Homo sapiens: one gene and its partners. The protein of the gene in region 1 purifies or fractionates together with the protein of each later gene. This does not show direct contact. Each region holds a gene or a part of one and is shown in the gene's direction. Other genes may lie near its edges. The genes, in order: SLC11A2, CPT1A, CACNA2D1, CYP20A1, RDH10, EXD2 and SLC25A17.

What was found.
Region 2: the proteins of SLC11A2 (region 1) and CPT1A purify together in Homo sapiens (affinity purification with mass spectrometry; one large-scale study listed by BioGRID and IntAct). This does not show direct contact.
Region 3: the proteins of SLC11A2 (region 1) and CACNA2D1 purify together in Homo sapiens (affinity purification with mass spectrometry; one large-scale study listed by BioGRID and IntAct). This does not show direct contact.
Region 4: the proteins of SLC11A2 (region 1) and CYP20A1 purify together in Homo sapiens (affinity purification with mass spectrometry; one large-scale study listed by BioGRID and IntAct). This does not show direct contact.
Region 5: the proteins of SLC11A2 (region 1) and RDH10 purify together in Homo sapiens (affinity purification with mass spectrometry; one large-scale study listed by BioGRID and IntAct). This does not show direct contact.
Region 6: the proteins of SLC11A2 (region 1) and EXD2 purify together in Homo sapiens (affinity purification with mass spectrometry; one large-scale study listed by BioGRID and IntAct). This does not show direct contact.
Region 7: the proteins of SLC11A2 (region 1) and SLC25A17 purify together in Homo sapiens (affinity purification with mass spectrometry; one large-scale study listed by BioGRID and IntAct). This does not show direct contact.

Annotation. Positions count from the first base shown.
Region 1 is NC_000012.12:50,998,885-51,002,384, reverse strand, and holds part of SLC11A2 (natural resistance-associated macrophage protein 2), read left to right. Parts: intron 1-1,965; coding exon 1,966-2,072; intron 2,073-2,969; coding exon 2,970-3,040; intron 3,041-3,143; coding exon 3,144-3,211; intron 3,212-3,500. UniProt on the Homo sapiens protein: Proton-coupled metal ion symporter operating with a proton to metal ion stoichiometry of 1:1. Selectively transports various divalent metal cations, in decreasing affinity: Cd(2+) > Fe(2+) > Co(2+), Mn(2+) >> Zn(2+), Ni(2+), VO(2+).
Region 2 is NC_000011.10:68,768,917-68,772,416, reverse strand, and holds part of CPT1A (carnitine O-palmitoyltransferase 1, liver isoform), read left to right. Parts: intron 1-3,500. UniProt on the Homo sapiens protein: Catalyzes the transfer of the acyl group of long-chain fatty acid-CoA conjugates onto carnitine, an essential step for the mitochondrial uptake of long-chain fatty acids and their subsequent beta-oxidation in the mitochondrion.
Region 3 is NC_000007.14:81,968,278-81,971,777, reverse strand, and holds part of CACNA2D1 (voltage-dependent calcium channel subunit alpha-2/delta-1 isoform 1 preproprotein), read left to right. Parts: coding exon 1-1; intron 2-1,040; coding exon 1,041-1,103; intron 1,104-1,793; coding exon 1,794-1,897; intron 1,898-2,804; coding exon 2,805-2,891; intron 2,892-3,500. UniProt on the Homo sapiens protein: The alpha-2/delta subunit of voltage-dependent calcium channels regulates calcium current density and activation/inactivation kinetics of the calcium channel. Plays an important role in excitation-contraction coupling.
Region 4 is NC_000002.12:203,301,518-203,305,017, forward strand, and holds part of CYP20A1 (cytochrome P450 20A1), read left to right. Parts: 3' UTR 1-3,500.
Region 5 is NC_000008.11:73,301,102-73,304,601, forward strand, and holds part of RDH10 (retinol dehydrogenase 10), read left to right. Parts: intron 1-3,500. UniProt on the Homo sapiens protein: Retinol dehydrogenase with a clear preference for NADP. Converts all-trans-retinol to all-trans-retinal. Has no detectable activity towards 11-cis-retinol, 9-cis-retinol and 13-cis-retinol.
Region 6 is NC_000014.9:69,197,998-69,201,497, forward strand, and holds part of EXD2 (exonuclease 3'-5' domain-containing protein 2), read left to right. Parts: intron 1-3,500. UniProt on the Homo sapiens protein: Exonuclease that has both 3'-5' exoribonuclease and exodeoxyribonuclease activities, depending on the divalent metal cation used as cofactor.
Region 7 is NC_000022.11:40,791,847-40,795,346, reverse strand, and holds part of SLC25A17 (peroxisomal membrane protein PMP34), read left to right. Parts: intron 1-766; coding exon 767-833; intron 834-2,670; coding exon 2,671-2,822; intron 2,823-3,500.

The DNA of each region.
Region 1 (3,500 bases):
TTACAGATGTGAGATACTGTGCCTGGCCTGTTTTTTTGAGATAGGATCTTGCTCTATTACCCAGACTAGAGTTCAGTGGCACAATCATGGCTCACTATACCCTTGACCTCCCAGGCGCAAGCAGCCTTCCTACCTCTGTCTCTTGAATAGTTGGGACCACAGGTGTGCACCATGATACCCAGCTATTTTTAAAATTTTTTGTAGAGACAGGGTTTTGCCATGTTGCCAAGGCTGGGCTTGAACTCCTGGGCTCAAGTAATCCTCCCACCTCTGCCTCCCAAAGTTCAGGGATTATAGGTGTGAACTACCATGGGTGACCTGACAAATTTTTTGGATGCTAGCTATCTGGAGGTGTTTTTTTCTGGCTTCAGTGAGTCAGCATAACTAAATCTGATTTTCAGCTGTATTGTTTGGCCAGATAAGTTTCTGACTTTGTTATATGCCACCCAGTTCCAACCATCTTCCCTTGAGTCCTTTTGCATACGTGGGCATTATTATTACATTAAAGGTGACTCCAACCTTTTCTGTTGTTGTGGTGGTGGTTTGTTGAGACAGTCTTGCTCTTGTTTGTTGCCCACTCTGGAGTGCAGTGGCATGATCATAGCTCACTGCAGCCTTGACCACTGGGGCTTAGGCTGTCCTCCTGCCTCAGCCTCCCAAGTAGTTGGGACTACAGGTGTATGCCATCATGCCTGGATACTTTTGTACTTTTTTTTTTTCCTATAATTTTTATTTTAGGTTTGGAGATGGATACATGTGAAGGTTTTTTCTTTCTTTCTTTCTTTTTTTTTTTTTTTTTGTGAAAGCAAGTTTATTAAGAACGTAAAGGAATAAAGAAAGGCTATTCCGTAGGCAGAGCAGTCACATGTGAAGGTTTGTTACATAGATAAACACGTGTCATGGGGGTTTGTTGTACATATTATTACATCACCCCGATATTAAGCCCAATACACAATAGTTAACTTTTCTGCTTCTCTCTCTCCTTCCACCCTCCCCCATCAAGTAGACCCCAGTGTCTGTTGTTTCTGTCTGTGTGTTCATAAGTTCTTATCATTTTGCTCCCAATTTTTATACTTTTTGTAGAGATGGGGTTTTGCCATGTTGCCCAGGCTGGTCTCAAACTCCTGGGCTTAAGGGATCTACGTTGGCATCCCAAAGTGCTGAGATTACAGGAATGAGCCACTGTGCCTGGTCCACCCCAACCTTTTTTTTTTTTTTTTGAGATGGAGTCTCGCTTTGTTGTCCAGGCTGGAGTGCAGTGGCGCAATCTCAGCTCACTGCAACCTTCGCCTCCCGGGTTCAAGCAATTCTCCTGCCTCAGCCCCCTGAGTAGCTGGGATTACAGGCATGTGCCACCATGCCCAGCTAATTTTTGTATTTTTAGTAGAGACGGGGTTTCGCCATGTTGGCCAGGCTGATCTTGAACCCTGTCCTCAGGTGATCCACCTGCCTCAGCCTCCCAAAGTGCTGGGATTACAGGTGTGAGCCACCGCGCCCAGCCTGACCCCAACCTTTTCATGTTTGTTTTGTCTTCCCAGCTATGGTCAGGATAGATATGTTCTTCTGCAATCATTTAATATTCTTTCTTGACCCATATTTGGACCGTATTAGCATCCTTATTCTCCTCTAAACTTTTTAGGATTGTTTTTAGGAAATTAAGTGGAAGTTAGTAAATGGCAATTATATTCTTCTCAAGTAGAAAGGAAAAAGAAAAAAGTAAGATCAATTACTGCCTTGACCTTCGTTCACAGGTTCTGCCACGTGGTAGCACACTTTTCCTTCTCCAGGTGAGAGCCACAGTGCAGTGATCGGCCAAGTGGAGGCACGTTCTGGTATTTCTTCTCTAGTCTGGAGGCTTATAAAGGACTGTTTATGGTTTAGTGCCAAAATGTGAATTCCAAATTGTGGAGGAATTTTTTAGAAATGATTAATCAGAACCGTGTCTTTCTACTGTTTGATGTTTAGGTCCCACGAGTCATCCTGTGGCTGATGGTGGAGTTGGCTATCATCGGCTCAGACATGCAAGAAGTCATTGGCTCAGCCATTGCTATCAATCTTCTGTCTGTAGGAAGGTGAGGGGTTTTCCTCTAGAAAGTCATCAGTGTTTTGCTGGATTTCCAAGCAGAGATAAAAACAAAAACCCAATTCATTTTTAATTTTGAAGACTCAACTCAATTGTTATTTCTTCTGTGGAACCTTTCTGGAAACAATTTCTTCTCCCCTGGTAGATGTAGACTCTACATCTTCCGTTTCCCATGGTGGGTTATGCTTACCTTTATTAGAATGTGTGGCGTTTTGTATCGCAATTATTGATTTGTATGTCATTTTATCCCGCTAGATACTATCTTTTTATTTTATTTTATTTATTTATTTTTTTGAGACAGAGTCTTTCTCCGTCACCCAGGCTGGAGTGCAGTGGTATGATCTTGGCTCACTGCAACCTCCGCCTCCCAGGTTCAAGCAATTCTTGTGCCTCAGTCTCCTGAGTAGCTGGGATTACAGGCACCTGCCACCATGTCCAGCTAATTTTTGTGTTTTTAGTAGAGACGGGATTTCACCATGTTGGCCAGGCTGGTCTCTAACTCCTGACCTCAGGTCTAGGAATGCCCGCCTCAGCCTCCCAAAGTGCTGGTATTACAGGCGTGAGCCACTACACCCAGCCCCCACTAGATACTATCTATCTAATCCTATAAAATTCTATCTGTCTAACTCCATGAGGGTAAGACCCAAACTTTTCAGCTTTGTATCCTAAGAGTGACATAGTAGACTCTCAAAGTTTAAATGAATGTAATTAAGTTGATGCTGTTACCCTACTTTACCCAAGGCCTAGTTTTCTGCCATTGTCCCTCCTCCCTCAAGTCCTAGCTTCTCCAAGTGTTCTTTATCTGGAGAGCTGTTGGGAAGAGAGTGTTTTTCAATGTTTCCTTTCTTTCCGTCTCTCTGACTTCCATATCTCATCTCTGACCTAGAATTCCTCTGTGGGGTGGCGTTCTCATCACCATTGCAGATACTTTTGTATTTCTCTTCTTGGACAAATATGGTAAGGAGAGCGGGAATGGGAGGGTCAAAGGAGCTGCTCTCTGTCATGTGGCAGATGGGGAAGTCTACCTTCTCTGAGCTCACTGCTGCCTTTTTTCCTTTAGGCTTGCGGAAGCTAGAAGCATTTTTTGGCTTTCTCATCACTATTATGGCCCTCACATTTGGATATGAGGCAAGTGGTACAGGATATTCATTAGCTTCTTAAAATAAGTTTTTGTGGTTTTTTTTTTTAGCCTTTTATTATAAAAGACAGTAATAATGCTAGTATGATTCACTTATAGTGGGTGTATCAACAAAAAGCCAATTTTTCCCTGGGCCAATTTTAAAGGAATATGATCTATAGCAAAGATTAGCATGCAGAAAGGCCTGCAGGGGCTCCCAGGTTTAAAATGACTAGATATTTTAGGGCTTTCCAGACTAGATTCTTTGGTCCCAAGTTGACCATCTGACAACAGAACAGC
Region 2 (3,500 bases), on another chromosome or scaffold:
TGGTTTCTGGGGGCAGCACAAGTCATCGTGGCATTGGCTTGAGATATTCCCAACTTTTTTTTTGAGACAGAATCTCACTCTTGTTACCCAGGCTGGAGTGTAATGGCATGATCTCGGCTCACTGCAACCTCCACCTCCCGGGTTCAAGCAGTTCTCCTGCCTCAGCCTCCCGAGTAGCTGGGATTACAGGTGTGCGCCCCCATGCCCAGCTAATTTTTTGTATTTTTAGTAGAGATGGGGTTTCACCATGTTGAGCAGGCTGGTCTCGAGCTCCTGGCTTCAGGTGATCCACCCGCCTTGGCCTCCCAAAGTGCTGGGATTATAGGCGTGAGCCACCGTGCCCAGCCTTGTATTAAAACTTGAGTGCTGTACACATATGCAGCGTGTGGCACTGCCCCCCCAACCTTGGTAACGATTGTGCCATTGTTGAATTTTGCTTGGTGCATCATGTACCTCATGCTTCACTGTCTCTGCACCTGGGAGGCACTCTTGTTATCCCATTTTTAAAAATTTACAAGTCCCCATTATGCCTCAGAAAATCTTGTTTTCCCATTTTACAGGTGAGGAAACAGGTGCAGAGAGGCCAGGTGCTTGCCAGGGTGGCACTAGGCAGGGATAAAGCGGGCCAGCGGCTCCAGAGTCTATGCTCTCTCCACCTAAAGTTAAGAAAACAGTTACAGAGAAGTAAGAGGCAGTGTTAATATCAGATGAACTGGAATGAATGGGCCAAAATCGTATTTAAAATGCATGCTAATACAGTCTGTAAAGACTGTCACAGTTATGAAGCCTTGCTTTCCCAAGTAACATGCTCACTATGCGTAAACCAGAAGCAGCTGGGCAGAGTACCAGGAGCACAGTGACAAGCTCCTGTCTGTGACAGATCATTGACTAAAGATCATGTGATTAAAAGGTGACATGGAATAGAGGCATCGCATCTCAGAATCAGTGAGCTGGATTTTGAGAATTGATGAGCAGATTTTGCCCGTAAACGTGCAGTATGAGGGCATGCAAGCAGTTGATACCTTACCTACAGAAAGGATGTTATTTTATCTTTTTAAATTTTTTTCTTTTTTAAAAGAATTCCCTGCAAGTAAGCGCAGGACTTAGGAGTTTAGTAAGGAAATGCCACGCTCCAGTTTAGTACATTTTGAAACATGCTGAAATGACTATTCTGCAAGCAGTACAAATTGGTGACGTTGACTCAAGGTAGAAAACCTGAAAAGGCCTCTGGTCCAGGGACCAAAGTGAGAGGTTGTCAGGGAGCCACCCTTGTGACTCCAAAGAGCTTGCAGCTCAGAGACTCCACAAAGGAAGCCACCCCATCTGCTCCCCAGAACCCACGTGGCCCAGGTGTGGGAATGAGCTGCAAGGGGCACCAGCCACTGTGCCATGTACTTGGCAGGAGCGAGCGAAACTTCAGGACGGCCCCGAGGAAGGCATCTCTTCATCTCTGCCCTCCACACTCGGAGGTGAAGCATCTTGCCTGAGGGCTCCAGCTCGTACGCAGCAGGACTGAGATCGGAAGCAGGCAGGCTTGTTCGAGAACCTGTGGCTCTCATCACTGTGCTGCAGCTAAACGCAGAAAAAGGAAGCACAGACCAGCTTCCCGCATGAATGGAAGTGCAGAGACCCTCCATAAAATCTTAGCAACTAGAATCCAGCACTGTAGGAAAAGAATAGTCACCCACAGTGGCGTACACCAGCGGTGAGAGGCTGGTTTTGTGTCAGTAAATCCAGTCATACACTAAACCATACTGTTGGGTCAGAGAAGAGCCTAGATAGTGAGTTTCACAGATCCTAAGAAGACGTTTCACGTTTAACATCCATTCCTGATAAGAGCTCTTGGTCAAGGGGCTTAGTAATAGGGCTCTTTCCTTAACAGGATAAGTGGCATCGTGTATTAATAGCTAGCTACTGCTTCAAAGTAAAAGTGTGGGAGGCAGTCCCCTTAAAACAAGAAAGATGAGGATGCCTCTAGCAGATGACAGGGTAATTGGGCAGGAAGAACATTTATGTCTGTTCAGGAGATGGAACAGCAGAAAGGCTTTGACGATTAAGAGGCACACCCAGTGAGCCGGCCCAGCGCAGAGTTGCACAAAGACCACCAGCTTTCTTGCACAAGGATGATGGCCAAGTGGGAAATATAATAAGAGAATGTAATAGAAACGAGAATCTGGGGCCCCACCTTCCAGGCATACGTGTATAAAGCAGACTGGACTCTGGGAAGAAGGCCGAGGAGCACTCGCCCCCCAACTCCTCCCCAGGGAGAGGGAGAAAAAGCCATGATTTTGGATGAAAAAAAACTTCAGAACCATAGAGGAAGGGATGTTCCCAGTTCACACTGTTTTTTTTTTTTTGAGACGGAGCCTTACTCTGTTGCCCAGGCTGGAGTGCAGTGGCACGATCTCGGCTCACTGCAGCCTCGGCTGCTCACTCGGCTCCCAGGTTCAAGTGATTCTCCTGCCTCAGCCCCTCGAGTAGCTGAAACTACAGGTGCCTGCCACCACACCTGGCTAATTTTTGTATCTTTAGTAGAGACGGAGTTTCACCACGTTGGCCAGGCTGGTCTCGAGCTCCTGACCTCAAGTGATCCGCCTGCCTCAGCCTCCCAAAGTGCTGGGATTACAAGCCTGAGCCACCATGCCTGGCTTAGTTCACACATTTAATATGAACACAGTGAGAGGTCAGGCAGGGGCTTCAGGAGAGGAGCTTGCCCAGTTGATCTTGAGGCTTGAAAAGGCTAACATTTGAGAGTCACCTGTAACATTTTTGAAAAGAAAAGCAATCAGGCGGAGGCAGGACACGGGGAGGTGGACATGTACTTTTTCAAATCCTAAAACTTAAAGTGTAGGAGTTAGAAGACTGTTGTGATTAAAGTGGTCTCAGTCCTATAATCCTAGCACTTTGGGTGGCTGAGGCAGGTGGATCACTTGAGTCCAGGAGTTTGAGACCAGACTGGGCAATATGGGGAGACTCTATCTGTACAAAAAATACAAAAAAAAAAAAAAAAAAATTAGCCCAGCATGGTGGCGCATGCCTGTAGTCCAAGGTACTCCGGAGGCTAAGGTGGGAGGATCACTTGAGCCCCGGAGGTGGAGGCTGCAGTGAGCCGTGATCGTGCCACTGCACTACAGCCTGGATGACAGTGAGACCCTATCTTTAAAAAAATTGTTTTTAATAAAAATAAAATGCTGCAGTCCTCGTACAAAAGCAGGCCTGGGAAATAACGTGTAATGGAGGGAGCATTTGACATCAGTAGGGGACGGGGAGCTGGTGAGTAAATGGAGCTGGGAAATCTGGCTAAGTGGTTGCCTTTGGAAAAAAATAATCCAAGAGAAATAAGGAGTCAGACCAGAAACTGTGGTTCACAAGAGAGGAAAAATACGGTCAATGAGTGTAGGTAATAAGCTTAATCTTACCAAGAATCTAACAAGTACAACTTAAACAAGACTAGATTTTTGCCTACGGGGTTGGTAAAGGCTTTTTTTCATGTTGGTGAG
Region 3 (3,500 bases), on another chromosome or scaffold:
TGTAAGTATTTGTTCTTATTAATAAAAATATGTATTCTGCATTTCAATTTAGTTTCTCCTGTGGAAATTGGGTATGAATCTCATAAATTTACAGTTCATTAATAATGTTTAATATTTCTCAAGAAAATCACTATACAGTTGTTGACAACTTGCATTTTCAGTTGTGGGTGTTTTTCAGTACTAATGTCTGCTATTACTCAACTTTTCATGCACATACACTTCAGGGTGAATACACCAAATTAAATGGGCATGATTGTGTGTTTCTGTTTGTGCTAAAGTAGGATTTCTAGTCAGTGTTTATTTGGGTTTCTAATAGCATTACCATACATCCAGTTGAGAAAATCTGAGTATGATTCTTATTTAAAATCTCTTCTCCACCCCATTTTCAGTCACTAAATGCTAAATATTTCTCCTAGCAATGTTTTCTTCTCTACCTCATAATGAAGGCCCTAAGATCCCATTTCTAAGAAATCACAGCAACTGATTTTTCTGCCTTTAGTGTTCTCCATTCCTCCACATGCAGCTTCTAGACAATTCTCCATACAACTCATATTGGCCAGAATCTAACTCCTAAAATGCAGTTCTAAGTTCAAGATACAGGTGAAGCTCTCTAAGATGGAATTCAAAATCATTCATTAGCTGACCATTGAGGAACTTGCACTTGAAACTTTACTTCTTACTGTTTCTCTCCTTTTGTCTTACGTTTTTTTTCTATACCAAACACCAGCCATCTCTGGTAGCTTTCCCTTATGTATACATTCCTCTCTACAAGTGATACCTTCCTGCTTTCTGTGTCATTGCTGTCAATTCATACTCCATGTTCAAAATGCACCTCAGTCATTATTTCCTATGAGATGTCTTCCTTAAACATCCTTCAAGTACAAATTTAATAGATATTTAAATTATTAAAACATAGTTGTGTATCTATTGATATATTTCCTTTACTTCCTAAACTTACTTCTCTTTGTATCACCAACACCTAACTTTGTTTTTTAGAATATGTTCAATAGAACATTTCCTTGTTTTGTCTTCTGTTTCAGCAAGGGAGTGAAAGCACGATTTGTTGTGACTGATGGTGGGATTACCAGAGTTTATCCCAAAGAGTAAGTTCAAATAACATCTGTAAAAACAAGTACATTACAAAAGACTGCGCCAAGGATTTGTACATTACTGCTTAAGGAAGCCATTCTTCAAATAAACTGATTGCCATTAGATTACATTGGAGCCATTGTTTACAGTATTTACATTATTAAAAGATTTTATTTCTCTGAAAAATGACATTATAAAATTCTTCAATGATGTTTTTGCTTGCCAAATATGTTTATTACAACATTTAAGAGACGTTTAAAGAGATTTTTCTCTTTGTAGATACAAGCTAAACCAGTGAAATGAACACAATGATTATAACCAATCAGCAATATTTATGTAGCACTTTATTATCTTTCACTCTTCTTTGATGCATCTTATCTCTATTATCTTCGTAACAGTCCATGAAGTAGGCTGAGTAGGCACCAATGCTTACTAACATTAATTGACCTATTAACTTACTTGTCCTGTTACCTGACTAGTAAACAACGGAGTAAAACTAGGAGTTAGCTTTTTCTGATTCTTAATTTAGTGCTATGCTGATGCATTGCTCAGTAATGAGTATCAGTTATGCTATCAATTACCACTAACTTCTTTAGACATACCTGAGATGTAGGCGTATCTGTAAAGCTCAGCAAGTCCACATAGGATAAAGTAGGTTATCAGGTAGATTAAAGAATACAAATGATGAGCCATTTCCTCCTTAGGGCTGGAGAAAATTGGCAAGAAAACCCAGAGACATATGAGGACAGCTTCTATAAAAGGAGCCTAGATAATGATAACTATGTTTTCACTGCTCCCTACTTTAACAGTAAGTATTGCTTTGGAATTCAGCTTTTCTCAATTTTTTAAATAATAAATTACTGCTACTATCTGCTCTCCCCCCAAATCACTACATTTTATGTTAACTACTCAGAATAGTCATCATTAAAAATAGAGTATTTGCAAGGCATTAGGAAAATAGAAAAGAAACATCATTTAGTTGAAGAAGCAAAATGCATACACAGCAAACAGTCTTCCAGTAATTTAGAGATAGCATATCTGTTAGGCATGCATAAGAAATAGAAACACATGTAGATAATCCCTCATATTACAACTGAAAATGTATTGAAAAACATTTAAGGAATTAAATAGAGTAATTCCATTGATTAATTACATTTTATCAGTATTATAAAATATAATTATACAATTAATAATAGCTTATCTTTTAAAATATTTTATTGACTTATTTCCCAAAAACCTTGTAATTTAATCCCTGAACATCTTTGCACATAGGTAGTATTTACCTTCATTTTCCTAAATGGGGAAACAAGTTCAGAGAATTTCAAAGTTTTGCCCAGTGACATACGTCTTATAAAAGACAAAGTCAGTTTTATGCATCCAGGATCAATCTTTCCACTTCACTTCAGCAGAACTACTTAATATTTTAACAAATGTTGTGAAGTAGAGATTTGGCATGTATTCATTATGTTGTGAAAGCAGATGCAACCAAGCTAATTAATGTCCCCGAATCAATTAATACAAACCAATTCATGGATATACCAGTTAGCCTAGTGTATACAACGGAAGAAGAGAGGAAGGAGAGCACAAACATTTTATAGTTTGTAGATGCTAGAATTTTTAAGCAAAATACTATCCATTTGTATCTAATGACGGAAAATCAATATTATTATTCAATATATCTTGATAGGTGTTTTATTTATTTATTTTTTTTTTAGAAAGTGGACCTGGTGCCTATGAATCGGGCATTATGGTAAGCAAAGCTGTAGAAATATATATTCAAGGGAAACTTCTTAAACCTGCAGGTAAGGATAAATATTAAATACAAAAACACAATCAAAATTAAATGTTACTTGGCATTTATATTATAAACTGGCAATGTTTATCAAGAAGGTCATCAAAAGGTGTCAAACAAAATAAAGGCATGCACACTTAAAAAAATTAAATAAAATATGACTAGTTACCTCTGAAGTTGGGATAAAATCAAATTGATACTACATAGATTTGAGGAATTTTCAAAACAGTGTGTATGTTTATACTCTGACACAAATTGATGGAATCAATTTAGTATAATAATCAAAATTTTTAATGTTGGATTAGCAACCCACCTCCAGAAGTCTCTCTTAATACTTTAAAATACGTACAAAGTTATATGGCCAAGGAGTTACATATTTGTACAAAAAAGTTAAGTTTCCAGCCCTGAGGGAAAAGATAAATATGGCATATTTATACTATATTCTAGTAGGCGTCTGTTAAAGTGAATTAGGTAGGGCTCAGTTAAAAACTTGCTATAAAATATATAGAAAAATGACTTTTTGGAAAAATAGGCAAGTAAACAAACATAGTAAAAGTGAGCATTAATGAGGATCGGAAGTGGGCTAGAGTGAGTGAATACAATAAAGTAAAAGCTATTA
Region 4 (3,500 bases), on another chromosome or scaffold:
ACCTGGGCCTCCCAAAGTGTTGAGATTGCAGGTGTGAGCCACGGCACCTGGTCCATAAAACATTTTTTTATGAACTAAAGAGCTCTCTCAAACTTGTGCTAACAAAATTTAAGGCAATATTAATTCTGTGCATGTGTTTGGGAAAATTAAAAAAACTTACATAGTGCTTATTTGGCCCACAAAAGTACAGTTCCATTTTTTATATAAATAGATTCTACCTAACTTATAACCCCTATGTCAAAATTTGTTTATCTTAAAATAGTTTGTATAAAAAGTCTTTACTGCTTTATTATGAAATAATAATGTTTATTGTAGAAAAATCTAGGAAAACACAAAAATGTCAAACTCAGTTAACAGTCATAGTTTCACTATTTGAAGTTAACCACTGTTAAGATTCTTTTTTTTTTTTTTTTTTTTTTGTTTTGAGACTGAGTCCCGCTGTCTATTGCCCAGGCTGGAGTGCCATGGCACCATCTCGGCTCACTGCAACCTCTGCTTCCCAGGTTCAAGTGATCCTCCCGCCTCAGCCTCCCAAGTAGCTGGGATTGCAAACATGTGCCACCACACCTGGCTAATTTTTGTGTTTTTAGTACAGATGGGGTTTCACCATGTTGGCCAGGCTGGCCTCGAACTCCTCAACCTCAAGTAGTCTGCCCACCTTGACCTCCCAAAGTGCTGGGATTACAGGCATGGGGCACCATGCCCAGCCCCACTGTTAAGATTCTAATGTAGGCCGGGCACAGTGACTCATGCCTATAACTCAAGCACTTTGGGAGTTCAAGGCGGCCAGATTGCTTGAGCTTTTAGAAGTTTGAGACCAGCCTGGGCAACGTGGCAAAAGCTTGTTTCTATAAAAAAATATAAAAACTTAGCCAGCCTTGGTGGCACCACCTGCAGTCCCAACTATTCAGGAGGCTGAGGCGAGAGGATGGCTTGAGCTCAGGAAGTCAAGGCTACAGTGAGCTGTGGTAGTGCCACTGCACTCCCTCATGGTTGACAGAGCAAGACCCTGTCTCAAAAGATTCTAATATAGATACTCTTTTTATGCATATGTAATTTATATATATTATACAAAATATTATTTGCATTTAACATATTCTGAACCAATAGTCTTTTCTACAAGCAGAACATTAGTATTCTTGTCACTCTGAATGTAGGCACAGATTTTTGTCATTCTTTATCTTTTTTGTGTGTGTGTGACAGAGTCTCACTGTCACCAGGCTGGAATGCAGTGGCGTGATCTCGGCTCACTGCAACCTCTGCCTCCCAGGTTCAAGCGATTCTCTTGCCTCAGCCTTTTGAGTAACTGGGGTTACAGGCGCGTGCCATCACACCCAGCTCATTTTTGTATTTTTAGTAGAGATGGGGTTTTACCGTGTTGGTCAGGCTGGTCCTGAACTCTTGACCTTGTGATCTGCCCAACTCAGCCTCCCAGAGTGCTGGGATTACAAGCATGAGCCACCGCGCTCGGTCCCTTTCTTTTTATTTATTTATTTATTTTGAGATGGAGTCTCGCTGTGTCACCCAGGCTGGAGTGTGGTGGCACGATCTTGGCTCACTGCAACCCCTGCCTCCCAGGTTCAAGCAATTCTCCTGCCTCAGCCTCCTGAGTAGCTGAGACTACGGGTATGTGCCACTACACTCAGCTAATTTTTGTATTTTTTTTTAGTAGAGACAGGGTTTCACCATGTTGGCCAGGCTGGTCTTGAACTCCTAACCTCAGGTGATTCACACCCCTTGGCCTCCTGAAGTGCTGGGATTACAGGCATGAGCCACTGTGCCCGGCCATTTTTTTGTGTTTTTAGTGGAGACAGGTTTTCACCATGTTGGCCAGTAGTGTATTTAGTTATTTAAGGAGGGCTCAATCAACAGGTTTAAATGGTGTGCTATTCATAATTATTGCAAAAATAGGCCGGGCCTGTAATTCCAGCACTTTGGGAGGCCAAGGCAGGTGAATCACTTGAGGCCAGGAGTTTGAGATCAGCCTGGCCAACGTGGTGAAACTCCATCTCTACTAAAAATACCAAAAGTAGCGGGCGTGGTGACAGGTGCCTCTAATCCCAGCTACTCGGGAGGCTGAGGCAGGAGAATCGCTTGAACCCAAGAGTCGGAGGTTGCAGTGAGCCGAGATCGCGCCATTGCACTCCAGTGTGGGTGACGAGCGAAAATCCGTCTCAACCAAGAAAAAAGAAAAAAAGAAAAAGAAAACTTAACTGGCCTTTGGGGCACATGCCTGTAATCCCAGCTTCTTGGGAGGCTGAGGCATGAGAAAAAAAATAAACCTGGGAGGTGGAGGTTGCAGTGAGTTGAGATTGTGCCACTGCACTCCAGCTTAGGCAATAAAACAAGACTGTCTCAAAAAAAAAAAAAAAAAAAACTTATTGAGAGAATAATATACCACTAATATTTAAAGAAATTTTTGGCTGGTGCCGTGGCTCACACCTGTAATCCCAGCACTTTGGGAGTCCAAAGTGGGCGTATAACTTGAGGTCAGGAGTTCAAGAACAGCCTGGCCAACATGGGGAAACCGCATCTCTACTAAAAATACAAAAATTAGTGGGTGTGGAGGCGGGCGAATGTAATCCCAGCTAGTTGAGAGGCTGAGGCAGGAGAATGTCTGGGAGGTGGAGGTTGCAGTGTGCCGAGATCGCACCACTGTACTCCAGCCTAGGTGACAGAGTGAGACTCCATAGGTCTCAGCCAGACTCTGGAGGTCTCAGCCCAGGCTTGAGTGCAGTGGCATGATCTGGGCTCACTACAACCTCCATCTCCCCAGTTCAAGCGATTCTCCTGCCTCAGCCTCCCGAGTAGCTGCGACTACAGGCGAGTGCCTCCATGCCCAGCTAATTTTTTGTATTTTTAGTAGAGACGGGGTTTCACCATGTTAGCCAGGATGGTCTTGATCTCCTGACCTTGTGATCTGTCCACCGCGGCTTCCCAAAGTGCTGGGATTACAGGTGTGAGCCACAGCGCCCGGCCAAAAAAAGGAATTTTTAAGAGGAAAAAGAATGCTACCAACCTAAACACATTTCTGTGACTGTTTATATTTTTCCCTGTTCCACATACATACATTTTTACATAGTACGTTCATTGCAGCATGAGTTACTTTTCACTTAATAAATTTTAAACATTTTCCAGCTGGGTGTGGTGGCTCATGCCTGTAATCCCAACACTTGGAGAGGCCAAGTCAGGCTTATTGGGTGAGTCCAGGTGTTTGAGACTAGCCTAGGCAACATGGCGAAACTGCATCTCTACAAAAAATACAAAAATTAGCCAGGTGTGCTGGCGCACACCTGTAGTCCCAACTACTCAGGAGGCTGAGGTGGGAGGATTGCTTGAGCCCAGGAGGTAGAGGTTGCAGTGAGCCATGATCATGCCACTGCACTCCAGCCTAGGTGACAAAGCACAACCCTCAAATAAATAAATAAATACATGTTAAACATATACCTTTATTACTTCATTTTTGTAAGAGCTTCAGGGAATAGGCTTTTTTAAAGGGA
Region 5 (3,500 bases), on another chromosome or scaffold:
GTGCAGTGGCGCGATCTCGGCTCACTGCAAGCTCCGCCTCCCAGGTTCACGCCATTCTCCTGCCTCAGCCTCCCGAGTAGCTGGGACTACAGGCGCCCGCTACCACGCCTGGCTAATTTTTTGTATTTTTAGTAGAGACGGGGTTTCACCGTGTTAGCCAGGATGGTCTCGATCTCCTGACCTCGTGATCCGCCCGCCTCGGCCTCCCAAAGTGCTGGGATTACAGGCGTGAGCCACCGCGCCCGGCCAAAACTCTATTCTTAAGTCACTCAATAAATATTTGATAATAATAGGCTTAAATATTTAGAAGATAACCTATTCAGAGAATACTCACATGGGTCTATGTTCTGAAGTTTTAAAAGGTAAGCATTATGGGCTGGGCACGGTGGCTCACACCTGTAATCCCAGCACTTTGGAAGGCCAAGGCAGGCGGATCACTTGATGTCAGGAGTTCGAGACCAGCCTGGTCAACATGGAGAAACCCTGTCTCTACTAAAAATACAAAAAAAGTAGCCGTGGTGGTGCTAGCCTGTAATCCCAGCTACTCAGGAGGCTGAGGCAGGAGAATTGTTTGAACCCGGGAGGCCGAAGTTGCAGTGAGCAGACATGGCGCCACTGCACTCCAGCCTGGGTGACAGAACAATACTCCATCTCAAGAAAGAAAAAGGTGAGCATTATGTTGGACTAAAGCTGTGTAAGACCATTATTGCAAACCAGGGCTGTCTCACCCTTGTTGTCACTCATATTTTCTTTTGCTTTCCTACATAACTTTCCATTCTCCCTGTCCCACATGTGTTCTGATTTTTACTATTTTGTGTTAGAACTCTGCTCATTGGTGTGAGGCTAGTGACTTGATAAGGCTGGTGTTGGTATGCCAGTTTGAATGAAGCTCACAATGAATGTGTAACAGCCATTCATATTTACCAATGATCAGTCCTCAAAAAGAGGACCCCCTTGGCAATTCTTTCCTTCCCTCTTAACCATGTACCATTTCTGTACCCTTTGGAAGCCTTTCCTCAGCCTGGCATAATTCTGTACAGCCTTCCAGTCTGCTGTGACGCTTCATCTTCCAATGTTGTTCCATCACCAGTAGCTCTCCTAGGAACCTTCTCCTGGTCACCAGTCAAGACTTAGTGATAGATTTGGGGTAGGTTCTAGTCAGCATAATCTACTGTGAAACACCCAGTACAAGACCATGGAAAATGAATGCACTATCATGCACTTTAACACTAGCATAGAAATTATTCATGTGGGCTGTTTGTATCTGGGTGAGATGTAAAAACTTGAAAGATACCTCTCTTGGGCGGGGTGCAGTGACTCAAGCCTGTAATCCCAACACTTTGGGAGGCCGAGGAGGGTGGATTGCTTGAACCCAGGAGTTCAAGACCAGCGTTGGCAACATGGCGAAACCCTGTCTCTACCAAAATACAAAAATTAGCTGGGCGTGGTGGCACGTGCCTGTAGTCCCAGCTCCTCAGGAGGCTGAGGCAGGAGGCTGGCTTGAGCCCAGGGGTTGTAGACTGCAATGAGCTGAGATCGCAACACTGCACTCCAGCTTGGGTGACGAGAGCCAGACTCTGTCTCAAAAAAAGGAAAAGAAAAATATCTCTCTGTATTCTACTTTGAAATATGGAAAGTTGGTCTCCATGCAAACCCATGTTTTCCTCAAAGTACTAACATTGCTTTACTTGTTATTTTTTAAGAGAAGTAGAATCTTAGCTTGCTATTTCTAAAAGCCAAAGTTTATCTGTAGATCCTTTTTAACCGAAGAGCTGCATTTGGCCTTTATACGTGAGCAGCAAATTGATCCCTGATTAACCAAAAGGGGGAAGCAAAAGCATTTAACTCCAGGCCTTTTATATTCTGAAGAATTTTTGCATGGTAAAGGACTAAATCTGTCAAATAGCTAGTAGGTAATTTACTTCTATTGATATGGTAGTCAGACAAGATAATTGGTAGTTAATTAATAGACCACTTAACTTAAAAGGTTTCACAGTTTTAAAATACTAATTACTGAATTAAGCATTTATCTATATCCAAATGTCTAAAGTCTATTTAGTTAAAATCTATCCAGGAAAAGTAAAAGCCCACCAGCTAGATCTGAGTAATGTAGCACTTAAAGACATTAGTGCTGCAGTTGTACCTAATATCTCATAAATGGTCCCTAATCATTAATGTTTAGGTTCTTATGTGATTTACTGGTTTTTAATCTCACATACTGCATTCCTGTGTTCTCTGGTTACAGAAACTAGTTTTGTTCAAGGTTTCTTACATTTAGAATTTCAAAAATCATTTCTAAAGTATTCATAAAAATATTTGGCCAGTATTTCTCCTTACCATAATAACTGTAAGACTAATTAGTTTATAGAGAATATTGATTTCCTATCTTAAGATAGCTACTAAACACTTGGAATTCATGGCCTATTTTTAGAAGTCTCCAGTAGAACTGGTTTCTGTTATTAAATATATGTCATATGTATAAAAATGTTTGAACTTTAGAAGTACTTTCAATGTCTTAAACAGAGTTGTAAATTGACCTGGGGTCAATTTTATCTTATTCTTGTAGTCACAGTTGAAAACTGAGTAAAACATCTCTTTTGATAGGAACTGCTTGGTACCTGGGACTGAATACCTATATACACCAAATAGGATCACATGCTCATTGAACTTTGAGTTTCTGTATTTGATACATTACATGCTGGGCCCAAATCTGTTGCTACTAGAAATCAAAATCTATGACATGATAAAATATCACTTTACATAGCTGGTGTGAATAGGGAACCAGACGCTGCATCAGATAAAAAGTTCTCCAACATCTTCAATATGTTCTAATCTGTGTCTGTTTTTCTCAGTTGTTTAAAAAATAACTGCTAAATAACCAATGTCATAATTTCTAACCTAAATGAAAAAAACAGCAATGCTCCCCTCATTGCCAAATCCAGTGTGCAGCTTCATCTTTCTACAGAATGTGACCCTCTTGACCGTCTCCTTGAAACTCAAGTGCTTTAGCTTCCATGATAAGCCCACTTTGTCGTGCTTCTCTGTCTGCCTTCAACTACCTTGACTGCGCCACACATTCTCTTAAAGCAGCATGTCACAAAACTGAACAAACTCCTCTTTGCTCCTTCTTGCATTCCCTGGTCACCAGGCTTAGAAACATCAGCATTATCTTCACCTCTCCAGCCTGCGTACATTCATGGGTCCCCAAATCCTGACTATTTGCTTGTGCCCCTGTGCTTTGATTGATCGCCCCTTTCCTTTCCTACTTCATCCTGTGTGCCTCCATCACCTCTTGCCTGGACTCTTGAAAGTGCCTCTGATCTTCTTTTCCTGTATTCGCTTTTGGCTTTCCAACCTAGGGTCATCTAAGCAGCCTTGAGTTTGTTATCTGCCTGCTTAAAACACTTGTATGACCATATTGCTCACAGCGTGAAGTCCAGGCTCATTAGCATGGCATCCTGGGCCTTCCAAAGCTGATTTCCACCTGCTTTTCCAGGTCA
Region 6 (3,500 bases), on another chromosome or scaffold:
CATCTCCACTCTTCTGGTCTTCTTCTAGATCTTCACTAAAGTTTTCTGTTCCTCTTTGTATTGATCTGACACATTTCTTGTTGAATTCTTTCCTAGACTTGTGTATGTGATTATGTGGTTTTTTTATGTAGTTTTAAAATAGTATACAGGTATATTGCTATTATGAATGAGATTTCTTTTTTCACATTTTTATAATAGGTTTGGAAAGCTATTGATTTTATACTCATCAGACTTTCTGAATTACCATATAATTTCTAAAAGTTGGTTGATGACTTTGTTGTTTTTCCAGGTGGTTGTGATGCAGTCATTCTGTTCAGGAGCTGTGGTTCTTTTTCATTCTACATTCCTCTGCCATAATTCGAGTATTCTTTGCCTCTCCGCTCTGCTTTATGAGCTTCTAACAGGTCTCTCTGCCTACGGCCTTGCTCTCCTCCAGGCTAGCACCCACATTAGTACCATGGTGGTCTCATCCTGTCACTCTCCTTATAAGTCTGTTATTTGCTCTCCAGTGTCCTGTAGGATAATGATGGCCCCTCATGACTTGTCCTGTATCTACTCATTCCAGCATCATCTCTATTTCCTTACTTGCACATTATATTTTAGCACAGTAGTGTCCATTAGAAGTAGAATGTGAGCCCCAATTTAAAATTTTCTAGTAGCCACATTAAAGATATAAAAAGAAACAAGGTGAACTGTAGTAATGGCATCACTTAATGAGGATCTGTTCTGTGAAATGTGTCATTTTGTGAACACGATAGAGCACACTTACACGAACCTAGATGGAATAGCTGACTACACACCTAGGCTGTATGGTATAGCTTATTACTCCTAGGCTATAGACCTATATGGCATGTTATTGTACTGAGTCCTGTAGGCAGTTGTAACACAGTGGTAAGTATTTGTGTATCTAAACATACCTAAACATAAAAGTACAGTAAAAATGTGGTATAAAAGCTAAACAGTGGGCCGGGCATGGAGGCTCACGCCTATAATCCCAGTACTTTGGGAGGCTGAGGCGGGCAGATCACCTGAGGTCAGGAGTTCGAGACCAGCCTGGCCAACATGGTGAAACCCCGTCTCTACTAAAAATTTAAAAAATAGTCTTGTGTGGTGGCACACGCCTGTAGCCCCGGCTACTCAGGAGGCTGAGGCAGGAGAATCGCTTGAACTTGGGAGGCAGAGTTTGCAGTGAGCCGAGATCACGCCACTGCACACCAGCCTGGGCAACAGAGTGAGACTCCGTCTCAAGAAAAGATAAATAGTGTTACACTTATGTAGGGTATCTACCATGCATGGAGCTTGCAGGACTGGAAGTTGCTCTGGGTGAACCTGTGAGTGAGTGGTGGGTGAATGTGAAGGCTTAGGACGTGACTGTACACTACTTTAGATCTTATAAACACGTGTGTATTTAGGCTACACTCAAATTATTTAAAATTTTTTTGGAATAATAAGTTAACCTTAGTTTACTATAACTTTTTTATTTTATAAACTTTTTAATTGTTTTAACTTTTTGACTTGTAATAACACTCAGCTTAAGACACAAATATGTTGTACAGCTGTATAAAAATGTTTATCTCTTTATAAGCTCTTTTCAACTTAAAATTTTTTTTTTTTTACCTTTTTAAACTTTTTTGTTAAAAACTAAGACACAAACACATACATTCATGTTAGCTTAGACATACACAGAGTCAGGATCATCAATATCACTGTCTTCCACCTCCACATCTTGTCCCACTGGAAAGTCTTCAGGGGCAATAACAGGCATGGAGCTGTATCTATGATAACAATGCCTTCTGGAATAACTTCGGAAGGAGCTGCCTGAGGTTGCTTTACAGTTAATTTTTTTTATAAGTAGAAGGAGTACACCGTAAAATAAAAAATATGGTAAATAAATAAACCAGTAACATAGTCGTTTATTGTCGTTATCAGGTATGTGCTATACATAATTGCATGTGCTATACTTTTATACGACTGGCTGTGCTGTAGGTTCGTTAACTCCAGCATAATTACACACATTTGTGAGTAACGCATTGTGCAGCAACGTTAGGACGGTTAGGATGGCTATGATGTCACTAGGCAATAGGAATTTTTCTGCACCATTGTAATCTTATAATTTTGTAGAACTATTGTATGTGTCATCTGTTGTTGACCGAAACATTGTTATACAGCACATGACTATATTGAACCCAGTATATTCCAAGCATTATTTCAACATAAATATTAAAAAATCAATATGGAATTCATAGTGATAGAAGGTATAATAGGGCTTATCAGGGGTTAGAAGAGAATGGGAATTCTTGTTGAATTACAGTTTCTATTTGCAAGGATGAAGTTGTTCTGGAAATGGGTGATGGTGATGGTTGCACAGCAGTGTGAATGTACTTATTGTCATTGAATTGTACACTTAAAAATGGCTAAAATGGGCCAGGCGTGGTGGCTCAGGCCTGTAATCCCAGCACTTTGGGAGGCCGAGTCTAGGGGATCGCTTGAGCTCACGAATCTGAGACCAGCCCGGGCAACATTGTGAAACCCCATCTCTACAAAAATAATACAAAAAAAAAATTACCCAGGCATCGTGGGGACTACCTGTAGTCCCAGCTACTTGGGAGGCTAAGATGGGAGGATGGCTTGAGCTCAGGAGGTGGAGGTTGCAGTGAGCCAAGATCGCGCCACTGCACTCCAGCCTTTGCGATAGAGCCAGACCTTGTCTCCAAAAAAAAAAAGGCTAAAATGGTAAATGTTATGTTATATATATTTTACCACGATAAAGAAGTCACCATAAAAATCAGTATGAGGCCAGGCGTGGTGGCTCACGCCTGTAATCTCAGCACTTTGGGAGGCCGAGGTGGGTGGATCACCTGAGGTCAGGAGTTCGAGACCAGCCTGGCCAACATGGTAAAACCCCGTGTCTACTAAAAATACAAAAATTAACCGGGTGTGGTGGCGGGCATCTGTAGTCCTAGCTACTTGGGAGGCTGAGGCAGGAGAATTGCTTGAACTCGGGAGGCAGAAGTTGCAGTGAGCTGAGATCGTGCCATTGCACTCCAGCCGGAGTGACAAGAGCAAAACTCCATCTCAAAAAAAAAAAATCAGTATGGAAATTATAAAAAGTTTACATCCTTTTTTTGTAGTAAGTATTCAAAAATTTGGTGTATATTTTACATGTATAATACATCTTACGTTGGTTTTTTTTGTTTGTTTTTGTTTTTGTGATGGAGTCTTACTCTGTCCCCCAGGCTGGAGTGCAGTGTTATGATCTCAGCTCACTGCAACCTCCGCCTCCTGGGTTCAAGTGATTCTCATGTCTCAGCCTCCTGAGTAACTGGGACTACAAGCACATGCCACAATGCCTGGCTAATTTTTGAATTTTTATTAAAGATGGGGTTTCACCATGCTGACTAGGCCGGTCTCAAACTCCTGATCTCAGGTGATCCTCCCACCTTGGCCTCCCAAACTACTGGGATTACAGGCATGAGCCACTGTGCCCACCTACATTTTAC
Region 7 (3,500 bases), on another chromosome or scaffold:
CACTCCAGCCTGGGTGACAGAGCGAGACTCCGTCTCAAAAAAAAAAAAAGGAAGAAATGTTTTCTGTCGTCTTTTCCTTTGGAAATTAGGAATTAAATTAGACTGCTTTATGGTTCATGAGTAACAGATGAAGGGCAAGGGATCTGCAGTGGGAATTTAGCACATGGTCACACAGGGGCATCATTTAGTTCTGGGGCAACCTAGGGAGCTCAAAGGTGAGGTAAATGGCATTTCAGTGAAACTTGCTGATGTTAACAATTATAATCCTCAAAGGATTTAGTTTAAACATACACGGGCCGGGTATGGTGGCTCACGCCTGTAATCCCAGCACTTTGGGAGGCTGAGGCATGAGGATCCCTTGAGCCCACAAGTTTGAGACCAGCCTGGGTAACATAGTGAGACTCCGTCTCTAAAAATATTAAAAAATAGGCGGGGCACGGTGGCTCATGCCTATAATCCCAGCACTTTGGGAGGCCGAGGTGGGCAGATCACTTGAGGTCAGGAGTTCAAGACCAGCCTGGCCAAAATTGCGAAACCCCGCCTCTACTAAAATACAAAAATTAGCTGGGCATGGTGGTGTGCACCTGTAATCCCAGCTACTTGGGAGGCTGCAACAGGAGAATCGCTTGAACCCAGGAGGTGGAGGTTGCAGTGAGCTGAGATCACGCCACTGCACTCCAGCCTGGGCGACAGAGTGAGACTCTGTCTCAAAAAAAAAATTTTTTTTTTAATTAATAAAATAAACATGCACTGTTTGGTCTTGTAGTTGATGAGAAAAGAAAATCCAAAACTACACACATGGTGCTCCTGGAGATCATTAAAGAAGAAGGACTGTGAGTACTACCTCAGTTCACCTTCGTTAAAGCAACTTGTTAGGAGATTCCTGTGCTTCCAGTAGAGTTATGCTTACTTTCTATCTTTCTCACAGCACTCTAATGTTGTGAATTTGGAATTGCCTGATTTATAAGTACATAATTGTTTTCAGTTTCTTAAAGATCTGTAGTGAGGCATTTGATTCTTTTTATTTATTTTTGTACAATGCTTACCTTAAGCCATTTGATTCTTGATCATGGAGTCTTCCATGAAACTAAAATGCATTGTTTTATATACAGTAAACTGAAAAAAAAATAATAGTTGTTTAGTTCATTCCTGTCAGGTGCATTAAGACAGATTATGTACTTCTTGTTTTAGCTTTTTATTGGAAATAATTTTAAATTTACAAAAATTTGCAAAACTAAACTTAGTACAAAGAAGACAAGTATATGCTTTACCCAGATTCATCTGTTAACATCTTTTCCTGTTTGTTTTACTATTTTTGCTCATGCTGTCTCTCTCCCACCTCCCTTCTCTCCTTACACACACCACACACAAATTTCCTCTGAATTATTTGAGAGTAAGTTACATACATCAAAGCCTTTTAGCCCCATGACACTGACACTTTTAAACAATACAGTCCGCCTGTAATCCTAGCACTTTGGGAGGCCGAGGCAGGCGGATCACCTGAGGTCAGGAGTTCGAGACAGCCTGACCAACATGGAGAAACCCCGTCTTTACTAAAAATACAAAATTAGCCGGGCGTGGTAGCGCATGCCTACAATCCCAGCTACTAAGGAGGCTGAAGCAGGAGAATCACGTGAACCCAGGAGGTGGAGGTTGCGGTGAGCCGAGATCGCGCCATTGCACTCCAGCCTGGGCAACAAGAGCAAAACTCCGTTTCAAAAAAAAAAAGAAAATAGAAAGTTTCTCATTTTTAAGTTTGCCTCACATTTCCTCATGATTCCATTGAGGTTATACATTATTGGCCTGAATAATGCACAGGTGATATTGTGTCCTTCTCAAGATATCACATCTTGACTCACATATTGTCTGCCTGCCTTTGGTTGGCTAATTATGATTTCTTAAATTTGATTTAGCCACTGTGCAATTACTTTTTTCTTCCCTTGCAACTATAAGCAGTCTATGTGGAGATACTTCAAAACAATACAAATATCCTGTGCTTTATCAACATTTTTCCCCTAAATTTACCACGAAGTTGCAAAATGACGACTTTCCAACTCCAGCATTGCCTCTACAGGTACCAATGTTGGCATTCTGCTATAAGCAGGACCTCCCCTTCTCCTTCATTTATTTATCTACTTATTATTGGTATAGGCTCAGAAATGTCTATTTTTCAATGGTTTACAATTGATTACTGTACTTCATTATTTTGGTATTCAAATTGCCCCAGATTTGGCCTGTAGGAGCTCCTGTGAGCTCCTGTGCCCTTGTGAATTCCCCCATCTTTTTTTTTTTTGATACTTATTTCCTATAATTACTTCATTTTAACTGTTCTTGCCCTGTAATAAAACATGAATGGTACTCTATTAACTAACAGCCATGAGGAAGTTGTCTCTAATTTTATATACCAATGTTACTAAAGAAAATTAAGGGAGGGAATTAATAAATCAATCAGACTTTGTGTTGTTTCTTTGGTATCATTAGTGCTAGAATAGATTTCTTGATTTGGACATCCTTCAGAATGTGAGGTGTGTGTACAGTTTGGAGTCCCTTGTATTCGTGTAGGAGTGAAGCTTGAGACCATGTGAATGATGGTCAGCCTTTCCTAGGATTTCTCTGCCAATTTCTAATTTGTCCATGACCTTTACTTTGCTTATTGTGTTTTTCCCCTAGCCTGGCACCATATCGAGGGTGGTTTCCAGTGATTTCCAGTCTCTGCTGCTCCAATTTTGTCTATTTCTACACTTTTAATAGCCTCAAAGCACTCTGGGTCAAAGGTCAACATTCTACCACTGGAAAAGATCTGGTAGTTGGGTTTGTTGCAGGTAACAAGGTTTTCTGGGTATAAAATGTTTTTATATTTACCTTGTGGTTTTATATCCTCTAAGAGGTTATTTAGCCCAAAGTAATGCTTACAAAGAATATAGCCAGTTTTCCAACTTGGTTTTTTTTTTTTTAATTGTGTTAAAAAACGTGACATAAAATTTACCATGTTAATTTTAAGTGTAAGGTCAGTAGTGTTAAACATGTTCACAATGTTATGAAACAAATCTCCAGTACTTTTGCATATTGCAGACCTGATTCTATTCTCATTAAACTCCCCTTTTCCCTTTCCCTGAGCCCCTTAGTAACCACCATTCTACTTTCGGTTTCTAAGAATTTGACTACTTTAGATACTTGATATAAGTCGAATCATACACTACTTGTTTTTTTTGTGACTGGCTTACTTCACTTAGTATAATGTCTTCTACTTTCATCCATGCCATACAGCATGTGACATGACTTCCTTACTTTTTTATGACTGAATAATATTCCATTATATGTATATATCACATTCTGTTTATCCATTCATCTGTTAATAGGCACTTAAGTTGCTTCCATCTTTTGGCTGTTGTGAATAGTGCTATGAAAATGGATGTGTAGCTCTCTCTTTGAGAGCCTGCTTTCCATTCTTCTGGATATATACCCAGAAGTGGGATTGCTGGATCATTTGGAATTCTGTT